Regions from separate parts of the Homo sapiens genome. Here region 2 is linked to region 1. The links come from fine-mapping of genetic effects on gene expression. A gene starts in region 1. The other region holds a variant in brackets. All regions are shown on one strand. Distances are between the middles of the regions.

Region 1 (5,346 bases):
CACGGTGGCTCACGCCTGTAATCCCAGCACTTTGGGAGGCCGAGGCAGGTACATCACGAGGTCAGGAGATGGAGACCGTCCTGGCTAACATGGTGAAACCCCGTCTCTACTAAAATATACAAAAAATTAGCCGGGCGTGGTAGCGGGCGCCTGTAGTCCCAGCTACTCGGGAGGCTGAGGCAGGAGAATGGCCTGAACCCAGAAGGCAGAGCTTGCAGTGAGCCCAGATCGCACCACCGCACTCCAGCCTGGGGGACAGAGCGAGACTCCGTCTCAAAAAAAAAAAAATTTTTTACTTAAGTCACATGAAATTTGTTATTATGTACTAAATGTATGCATACTCCTTAAGCCACTTTGATACCTTGTGGCCACAAAACATGTATCAGAATCCACGCACGTACACATAAACACATCTAAACACACATATACACTCATCCAAAAACCCTACAGCTTTTGCTTTACACCTCTAACCATGACATATCAACACAAAGTCACTAGTTAGAAAAACAATAACAGAAAGAAACATCTAGATGCAAACTGTGGATGTCATCTCAGTAGAAAAGTAACAGCTGGTCAGGCACGGTGGCTCACAACTGTAATCCCAGCACTTTGGGAGGCCAAGGTGAGTGGATTGCCTCAGGCCAGGAGTTCAAGACCAGCCTGGCCAACATGGTGAAACCACGTCTCTACTAAATTTACAAAAACTAGCCAGGCGTGGTGGCGCACACCTGTAATCCTGGCTACTTGGAAGGCTGAGGCAGGAGAATCGTTTGAACCCAGGAGGCAGAGTTTGCAGTGCGCCGAGATCGCACCCCTGCACTCTAGCCTGGGCAACACAGTGAGACTCTACCTAAAAAAAACAAAAAGTGTAACAGCAGCTTTAAGGCAGGCAGCAAAGGAAACAGAGAGATAGAGAACTTAGGAACTCTATAGTTCTTTTTTTTTTTTTTTTTTGAAACAGAGTTTTGTTCTTGCAGCCCTGGCTGGGGTGCAATGGCACGATCTCAGCTCACTGCAACCTCCGCCTTCTAGATTCAAGCTATTCTCCTGCCTAAGCCTCCCAAGTAGCTGGGATTACAGGTGCATGCCACCACGCTCGGCTCATTTTTGTATTTTTAGTAGTGATGGGGTTTCACTCTGTCGGTCAGGCTGGTCTCGAACTCCTGACCTCAGGTGATCCGCCCGCCTTGGCCTCCAAAAGTGCTGGGATTACAGGCGTGAGCCACTGCGCCTGGCCAGGAACTCTATGGTTCTGTAGTTGCAGGCTGACCTTTGGGCTCTGAATTTTTCCTGGATGGAATTTGCCCATCAGTTTAAAATGTGCCCCAAAAGACCATAATATGGAACCAGCTGGGGCACTAGGAAACCCAGCATGCCCGCGACATGTTCAGTTTTATACCAACACTTGCAGGTAGAGGCGCCTGAAACCAGCGGGGTGCCTGGAAGGAGGTCGCCCTCTTGTCTTTGCTGAGGCTTACATTATTTATTTCCCACTTTTTTTTTTCTTGAAAGGAACCGAGCTGTGGCCTGGGGTTCCATGGAGCAGGTGGGGCGCGGAGGAACTGAGCTGTGGCCTGGGGTTCCGTGGAGCAGGTTGAGTATGGAGGAACTGGGGTTCCGTGGAGCAGGTGGGGCGCAGAGGAACCGAGCTGTGGAATGGGGTTCCGTGGAGCAGGTTGAGTGTGCCGGTCGTGGACGGGTCGTGGGCGGGACTCCCCAGTGTGTCACCACTGAGGCATCTTCGCCCTCTTACGTGTCTCTGTTTCTCTCTCTAGAAGTCCAACACCTCCGAGAGGACTCAAAACACAGAGTGACCAGCTCCTATGTGCATTTCCTGGACAAACCTTTTTTTTTTTTTTTTTTTTGAGACGGAGTCTCGCTCTGTCGCCCAGGCTGGAGTGCAGTGGCACGATCTCGGCTCACTGCAAGCTCTGCCTCCCGGGTTCACGCCATTCTCCCGCCTCAGCCTCCCAAGTAGCTGGGACTACAGGCTCCCGCCACAATGCCCGGCTAATTTTTTGTGTTTTTAGCAGAGACGAGGTTTCACCGTGTTAGCCAGGATGGTCTCGATCACCTGACCTCGTGATCCACCCGCCTCGGCCTCCCAAAGTGCTGGGATTACAGGCGTGAGCCACTGCACCCAGCAGACAAACCTTTTTAAACTAATTGTGTTGGGGGGTTCCCTGTGGGGCTGCTGCACGTCGTGGGGGATCAGCCCACGAGATACTCCCACTTGGCTCACAGTCACCCAGGGGCGCCTTTCAGCTGGGAGGAGCAAAATGCCTTTCTTTCTGGAGCTGAGAAAACTCAGTCTCTCATTTATCTATGCAAAGAACAATTCAGTTCCTCATGCAAATGCACGCACAAGCCAGTTGGGCTTAATTTTGGGAGAAAAAGCAACAGAGAAGACCCTTAGGAACGCACGTCCGAGCTAGAAACCAAATGGGGTACCCAAAAGGGAGTCGTTCTCCTTGTCTTAAGAAAAAGGTGGCCGGGCGCAGTGGTTCACACCCGTAATCTCAGCACTTTGGGAGGCCGAGGCAGGCGGATCACCAGGTCAAGAGATCAAGACCAGCCTGGCCAATATGGTGAAACCCCATCTCTACTAAAAAAATATACAAAAATTAGGCTGGGCGCAGTGGCTTATGCCTGTAATCCCAGCACTTTGGGAGGCCGAGGTGGGCGGATCACGAGGTCAGGAGATCGAGACCATCCTGGCTAACACGGTGAAACCCCGTCTCTACTAAAAATACAGAAAATTAGCCAGACGTGGTGGCGGGCGCCTGTAGTCCCAGGTACTCAGGAGGCTGAGGCAGGAGAATGGCGTGAACCCGGGGGGCGGAGCCTGCAGTGAGCCGAGATCGCGCCACTGCCCTCCAGCCTGGGCGACAGCGAGACTCCATCTCAATAAATAAAAAAAAAAAAGAGTTGTTATCAGTAGAAGGGAATGTCTGGTTACAGTATGGCGTTGTGCAGATGAAGGTCTTATCGCAGATGAAGCCACCAGGTCACAAGCCTCAGAGAGAATCAACTATAAATGCTTCTCATCAGACTCAAGGCCTGAGGTGATGCTGATGCTGTGCCTGAATTCCAGCAGGGAGGAGGCATGAGGTGCGTCCGACTCCCTTCCCATCACAGCTGAGCTAGTTTTTCAGGTTAACTTTGGAATGCCCATGGCTAAGACCAGGGGTCCATCCAGACAGTTCAGGGCTTATAATTTTATTTTTGGTTTATGAGGGAACCTAGAAGGCAGCCCACACGCACCTTACTCCTCCCAGCAGGGGACACCGGCCAGACCCCAAGCTCCACACTCCCACCCTCAGCACCCACCCAGGCCAGCAGCCGGGGGCACCTTGGTGCCACCTTAGTGCCTGTTCTGCGGAGGCTCCACTGGACAGTGCAGTTGATGCCCGGGGCCGAGGGGGCTCTGCCTGGGAGGCTGTTCACCTGCCTGGGTGCAGGACCCCAGAGGGACCCCAGGCCACCCCTGGCCTGCCCATGCCCACGGGAATCCCGACCTTGGGCTGCCTGTCTATTGCACCAGAACCGTCCCAGGGCTGACTCAGAGTGACCCTGAGTGGGGGACGCTCACCCCAGGGGAGGAAACGGGGCTCTGGGATAGGAGGTCCTGGCTGGGGTCCCACAGATGCCAGGCGCCTGCCATCTCCAGGGCAGTGCTGTCACAGAAGACAACACCGCTCCCTCGTTACCTGTGGCCCGGCCACCTCAGCGGCCCAAGGAGGTGAGCTCACAGCCATGCTCGGTCAATGGGGCCTGGCCGTCTTTCCTGGGAGAGAGCAGAGGCATGGGCCCAAAGGGAGCCAGGGATGCCTGCCCGTCCCTTCTCTCATTCAGGCTCACCTGGTCATGGTGCAGTGACCACAGGACCCCCACATGCCGGGAGCTGGGTTCGCCCCACCCCACCCCCTGCACCGGGCCAGCGAGGGGATGGCCCAGAAGAGGGGGAGGACCATGTGGATTCACCAGTGCTGGACATGTGCTCTGTGGCTACCCCCTCTGCCTACTCTCTGGCCCGATACAGGGGTGTGGGACAGGTGACTGAACCTCAGCCCTTAGAGGCCTTGCCCGGGAGGAGGGGAGGGGGGTGGAGCCGGGAGCTGCGTGATCCAGCCGAGATGTGCTCTGACTGAGGCCCTGCAGGGCATACGGGTCATGGAAGGGGTGCTCTGCCCCCGGCCAGGGCTCCCCCTCCTACAGGAAGCCGGGGGCCTTGCTCCTGCAAGCTGCCCTTTGGCTGGACCGGGCCCCACTGGCCGGACCTGGGCTCTTTCTCTCTCTGCACCCTGCACCAAGGCTGGGCTGTCTGCCAGGCCACTCCCGGGGACACAGGGAGGCACAGGCTGCTTCCAGCCACAATCTCTGGCAAGCACCTAGGACCTTGTCCCCGCCTGCCAAGTAGCCGCCCGGGCCATGTGTGCCCTGTCTCCTCGGCAGGTGCGGCCCACGCACAAAGCTGCCCAGATGTGGTGGGGGAGAAGCCCCAGGCCTGTGCTGTGTCCGGGGGCCCTGCCGCTGACCTGTGGGGTCTCTGTGACATCAGCAAGCCCCCTGCCGCGAGCTTGGAGAGGCACCCCAGCCCCATCTGGCACTCAAGGAAATCAGCTCAGAGAGGTTGAGTAACTCGGGAAGGCCACACAGCCAGTGACGAAGCTGTGATTCACACAGGCCTGGGTGACTCCAGCATGGCTTTCCTCTCCAGGACGTCACCGGTGGCAGCTGCTTCCTTCCAGAGCCGGCAGGCAGGTGACCTCACCCTCCTCAGAGCCATGGCTCTGCTGCTGGACCCTGTGGGGCTGGGCTCCCCCAGCCAAGCCCAGGGACCCAGCACCACTTGGGGCAGGATGTCAGGAACACAGAGCCTACCCTTCCAACCTGGGCCCGGCTCGGGTCTGGTCATTTGGGACAGTGAGGCCACCTGGATATCTAGGGTCCCACAGTAGACAGGGATGGGGTGGTCCTGGGGGACAGGGACACCTGCCTTCCACACAACCGCACTGGGGCTGAAGACGCCAGCCTGGGAGACTGTGATTTGGACCCTGACAGTAGCATGTGGTCTTAGCATGTGTGAGGTCTTAGCGTGTGTGGTCTTAGTGTGTGTGAGGTCGTAGCGTGTGTGAGGTATTAGCATACGTGTGTGGTCTTAGCATGTGTGGGGTCTTAGTGTGTTGTGAATCACTTTCTTTTTTTTTTTTTTGAGACGGAGTCTTGCTCTGTCGCCCAGGCTGGAGTGCAGTGGCACGATCTCGGCTCACTGCAAGCTCCGCCTCCTGGGTTCACACCATTCTCCTGCCTCAGCCTCCCCAGTAGCTGGGACTACAGGTGCCT
Region 2 (5,382 bases), 86 kb after region 1:
CTACTCCAAGGGCTGAGGCAGAAGAACTGCTTGAACCTGGGAGGCAAAGGTTGCAGTGAGCCGAGATTGTGCCATTGCACTCCAGCCTGGGCGACAGAGTGAGACTCGGTCTCAAAAACAAAACAAAAGGACAGGGTCTCACTGTGTCACCCAGGCTGAAGGGCAGTGGTGCAAACATCTTGGCCCACTGCAGCCTCAAATTCCTGGCCTCAAGCGATCCTCGGCCTCTCAAAGCAATGGGATTACAGGCGAGATCCATCAGTTTTTTCTTTTTTTTTTTTTGAGACAGAGTTTTGTTCTTTTGCTCAGGATGGAGAGCAGTGGTGCAATCTCAGAATCACCGCAACCTCTGCCTTCCAGTTTCAAGCTATTCTCCTGCCTCAGCCTCCCGAGTAGCTGGGATTACAGGTGCCCGCCACCACGCCTGGCTAATTTTTTTTTTTTTTTTTGAGATGGAGTCTCGATCTGTTGCCCAGGCTGGAGAGCAGTGGCGCAATCTCTGCTCACTGCAAGCTCCACCTTCTGGGTTCATGCCATTCTCCTGCCTCAGCCTCCCGAGTAGCTGGGACTACAGGCGCCCGCCACCACATCTGGCTAATTTTTTGTATTTTTTTTAGTAGAGACGGGGTTTCGCCGTGTTAGCCACGACGGTCTTGATCTCCTGACCTCATGATCCACCCGCCTCAGCCTCCCAAAGTGCTGGGATTACAAGCGTGAGCCACTGCACCCGGCTTTTTTTCTCTTTTTTTGAGATGAAGTCTCGTTCTGTCGCCCAGGCTGGAGTGCAGTGGCGCAATCTCGACTCACTGCAACCTCCGCCTCCCGGGTTCAAGCAGTTCTCCTGCCTCGGCCTCTGGAGTAGCTGGGATTACAGGTGTGCACCACCACACCCAGCTAATTTTTGTATTTTTAGTAGAGACAGGGTTTCACCATGTTGGTCAGGCTGGTCTCAAACTCCTGACCTTGTGATCCACCTGCCTCAGCCTCCCAAAGTGCTGGGATTACAGGCATGAGCCACCACGCCCGGCGAATTTTTGTATTTTTAGTACAGACGGGGTTTCAATGTGTTGGCCAGGCTAGTCTCGAACTGCTGACCTCGTGAGCCACCCACCTCGGCCTCCCAAAGTTCTGGGATTAGAGGTGTGAGACACCATGCCTGATCAATTTTAAAATCGGGAACAAAGAACACTGAGTGCTGCCAGTTACCTGCGGTGGCTCCACCTGCAGGGTCAGACTCCACCTCTGGGACTCTGCATCCGCCTCCCTTCCCGGCTGGGCACGTCTTAGGGCAGCTGTCACACCAGCCTCAGGCGAGGGCCAGGCCACGGCTGCCACATGGAATGCACATCCTGGATCCTCCGTGGTGGCTTCTCCCTCCTCACCAAGGGAGGTCGGCTGTTACATGTAACATTTCTACCTTGGTTATAATTACAAATTTGATGTACGCAATTATGATAGAAAAATCGGCTGGGTGCGGTGGCTCACTCCTATAATCCCAGCACTTTGGGAGGTGGAGGCAGGAGGTTTAAGCCCAGGATTATGGAGACCAGGCGGGACAATATAGCAAGACCCAGTCAAAAATAAAAAAATAAGGCCAGGCTCACCCCTATAATCCCAGCATTTTGGGAGGCCAAGGCAGGCAAATCACCTGAGGTCAGGAGTTCGAGACCAGTCTGGCCAACATGGTGAAACCCCCATCTCTACTAAAAATACAAAAATTAGCTGGGGATGGTGGCATATGCCTGTAATCCCACCTATTCAAGAGACTGAGGCAGGATAATCTCTTGAACCTAGGAGGCAGAGGTTGCAGTGAGCCAAGATCACACCACTGCACTCTAGCCTGGGTGACAGAGTGAGACTCTATATTAAAAAAAAAAAAGCCAGGCGTGGTGGCTCACCCCTGTAATCCCAGCACTTTGGGACACTGAGTGGGGGCGGATTACCTGAGGTCGAGAGTTCAAGACCAGCCTGGCCAACATGGAGAAATCCCATCTAAAAATACAAAAATTAGCCGGGTATGGTGGTGCACGCCTGTAATCCCAGCTACTCGGGAGGCTGAGGCAGGAGAATCGCTTGAACCTGGGAGATGGAGGTTGAGGTGAGCCAAGATTGCAGCATTGCACTCCAGCCTGGGGAACAAGAGTGAAACTCTGTCTCAAAAACAAAATAAAAAACAAAAATAAGGCTGGGCATGGTGGCTCATGCCTGTAATCCTACCACTTTGGGAGGCTGAGGTGGGCAGATGACCTGAGGTCGGGAGTTCAAGACCAGCCTGACCAACATGGAGAAACCCCAGCTCTACTAAAAATACAAAATTAGCCGGGCATGGTGGTGGGCACCTGAACTCCCAGCTACTCTGGAGGCTGAGGCAGGAGAATCACTTGAACCCAGGGGGCGGAGGTTGCGATGAGCTGAGATCGTGCCATTGTATTCAGCCTGGGCAACAAGAGCAAAACTCCCTCTCAAAAATAAATAAATAAATAAAAATAAAAATAAAAAAATTAGCTGGGCATGATGGTGCACGCCTGAAGTCCCAGCTACTCTGGAGGCTGAGGCAGGAGAATCGCCTGAACCCAGGAGGCAGAGGTTGCAGTGAGCTGAGATTGCACCATTGCACTCCAGCCTGGGTGACAAAGCAAGACTTTGTCTCAAAAAAAATAAATAAAAATAAAAATTAGGCCAGGTGTAGTGGTGCACACTTGTGATCCCAGCTAGGAAAGGCTGTGACAGGATGGCCTGAGCCTGGGAGGGGAGGACGAGTATGAGCGTGAGAATGATTGTGAAAGGATGACTATAAATTGAGTGTGAATTAGTGAATTGGTGAGTGTGAAGTAGTGCAGATGGGTGTGAATTCGTGAGACTGTGTGTGAATGAGTGTGGATGGGTGTGAACTGGTGATTGTGCATTTGTGAATTGGTGTGAATTGTGTGGTGTGGATGAGTGTAAACGGGTGTGTAAATTAGTGAATTGGTGAGTGTGAAGTGGTGTGGATGAGTGGATGGATGTGAATGGGTGAGAGAATGAATGAGTGGATGAGTGTGAACTGATGAGTGTGAATGGGCGAGTGTGAATGTGTGAATGGGCGAGTGTGAATGTAAATGAGTGTGAATGGATTGGTGTGCGTGAATGAGTGTGAACGAATGTGGATTGGTGTGTGTAAATGGGTGTGTGAATGTGTGAATGGGTGTGAATGAGTGGATTGGTGTGAATGGGTGAATGACTGGATTGGTGACTGTGAATGTGAATAAATGTGAATG[AGTGTGATTGAATGAGT/A]GTGAATTAGGGTGAATGGGCGAGTGTGAATGTGTGAATGAGTGGATTAGTGTGGATGGGTGTGAAAGGGTGAGTGAGTGAATTGATTAGTGAGGATTGGTGAGTGTGAATGTGGGTGAGTGTGGATGGGTGTGAAGGAATATGAATTAGTGTGAGAACGAGTGTGAAATGAGTGTAAATGAGTGGGAATTAGTGAATTGGTGTGAAGTGTGGATGAGTGTGGATGGGTGTTAATTGGTGAGTGTGAATGTGTGGATGGGTGAATTAAATTGGTGAGTGTAAATTGGTGTGTGTAGTGTGAATAAGCGTGTGGATGAGAGTAAACAGGTGACTGAGTGAATTGGTGTGAAGTAGTGTGGATGAGTGTTAATTGGTGACTGTGTTAAAGCGTGGGTGTGAATTGGTGTCTGAATGGATTGGTGAGTGTGAATTGGTGAGTTGGTGTGAATTGGTGAGTGTGAATTGGTGAGTGAATTGGTGAGTTGGTGTGAATTGAATTGTGTGAATGAGTGGATTGGTGAGTGAATTGGTGAGTTGAATTGGTGTGTGTAGTGGATGAGTGTGGATGAATGTGAATTGGCGAGTATGGATGTGTGAATTGGTGAGTGTGAATGTGTGGATTGGTGAGTGAATTGGTGAGTTGAATTGGTGTGTGTAGTGTGGATGAGTGTGAATTGGCGAGTGTGGATGAGTGTGAATTGGTGAGTGTGTGAATGTGGATTGGTGAGTGAACTGGTGAGTTGAATTGGTGTGTGTAGTGTGGATGAGTGTGGATGTGTGGATGAGTGTGAATTGGTGACTGTTGAGTGTGGATGTGTGAATTGGTGAGAGTGAATGTGTGAATTGGTGAGTGTGAATGTGTGGATTGGTGTGTGTAGTGCGAATGAGTGGATGAGTGAATTGGTGACTGTGTGGATGAGTGTGAATTGGTTGTGGATGTGTGAATTGAGTGAATTGGTGAGTTGAATTGTGTGTAGTGTGAATGAGTGGATGAGTGTGAATTGGTGACTGTTAGAGCGTGGATGAGTGTGACTTGGTGTATGAATGAGTGTGGATTGGCGAGTGTGAATGAGTGTGGATTGGTGAGTGAATTGGTGAGTTGAACTGGTGTGTGTAGTGTGGATGAGTGTGAATTGGTGAATGTCGATAGGTGTGAATTGTTGAGTGAGTGTATGAATGAGTGTGGATGGGTGTGGATTGGCACGTATGAATTGGTGAATGTGAACTGGTGAGTGTGAATTAGTGTAAATTCAGTTCAGTGGATCAGGAGCAACTTATTTTTTATTTATTTTTTGAGACGGGGTCTCACTCTGTCCCCCAGGCTGGAGTGCAGTGGCACCATCTCGGCTCACTGCAAGCTCCGCCTCCTGGGTTCACACCATTCTCCTGCCTCAGCCTCCCGAGTAGCTGGGACTACAGGCGCCTGCGACCACGCCTGGCTAATTTTTTGTATTTTTGGTAGAGATGGGGTTTCACCGTGTTAGGCAGGATGGTCTCGATCTCCTGACCTCATGATCCGCCCACCTCTGTGCCCCAAAGTACTAGGATTACCGGCGTGAGCCACCACGCCCGGTCTTTTTCATTTTTATTTTTGAGACAGTCTCACTCTGTTGCCCAGGCTGGAGTGCAGTGGTGCGATCTTGGCTCACTGCAGGTCAACCTCCCAGGCTCAAGTGATCCTCCTACCTCAGCCTTCTGAGTAGCTGGGACCATAGGTGGGCACAACCACACCTGGCTTTTTTTTTTTTTTTTTTTTTTTTTTTTTTTTTGTAGAGATGGGGTCTTGCTCCATTGCCTAGGCTGGCTTTGACCTACCAGGCTCAAGTAATGCACCTGTTTCAGCCTCCTGAAGTGCGGGATTACAGGCAGGAAGGTGCAGCAAGACTAGAATAGGCAATATCTCAGTTTATTGTACTTATGAGAGATACTATTCTGTACAACTTTCAATGGTGGGTGTGTTCATCAGATAGCGGTGTAAAAAGATATTTCTTATTTTGTATCTTGATCAAAAAAGTCTGAAAGTAGGCTGGGTGTGGTATCTCACACCTATAATCCCAACACTTTGGGAGGCCAAGGCAGGAGGATCATTTGAGGCCAGGAGTTTGAGAC

Evidence for each region. PIP is the estimated chance that this variant, and not a neighbour inherited with it, causes the effect.
Region 2: its variant is the best candidate, but not a certain one, in a credible set for the expression of SCNN1D in esophagus muscle (GTEx, PIP 0.82).

The regions. Positions count from the first base shown.
Region 1 is chr1:1,277,556-1,282,901 of GRCh38, forward strand. SCNN1D (sodium channel epithelial 1 subunit delta) reads left to right here and starts at 2,881. Exons shown (of 18, transcript NM_001130413.4): 1 at 2,881-3,111; 2 at 3,671-3,742; 3 at 3,856-4,055; 4 at 4,687-4,760. The coding sequence starts at 3,107. LINC01786 (long intergenic non-protein coding RNA 1786) reads left to right here. Exons shown (of 3, transcript NR_185846.1): 3 at 1,513-3,052.
Region 2 is chr1:1,363,170-1,368,551 of GRCh38, forward strand. It overlaps a transcript of MXRA8 not described here. Among named protein-coding and RNA genes, the nearest start is that of MXRA8, 7.3 kb to the left of the region's middle. The variant AGTGTGATTGAATGAGT/A (reference allele first, on the strand shown) is at 3,258.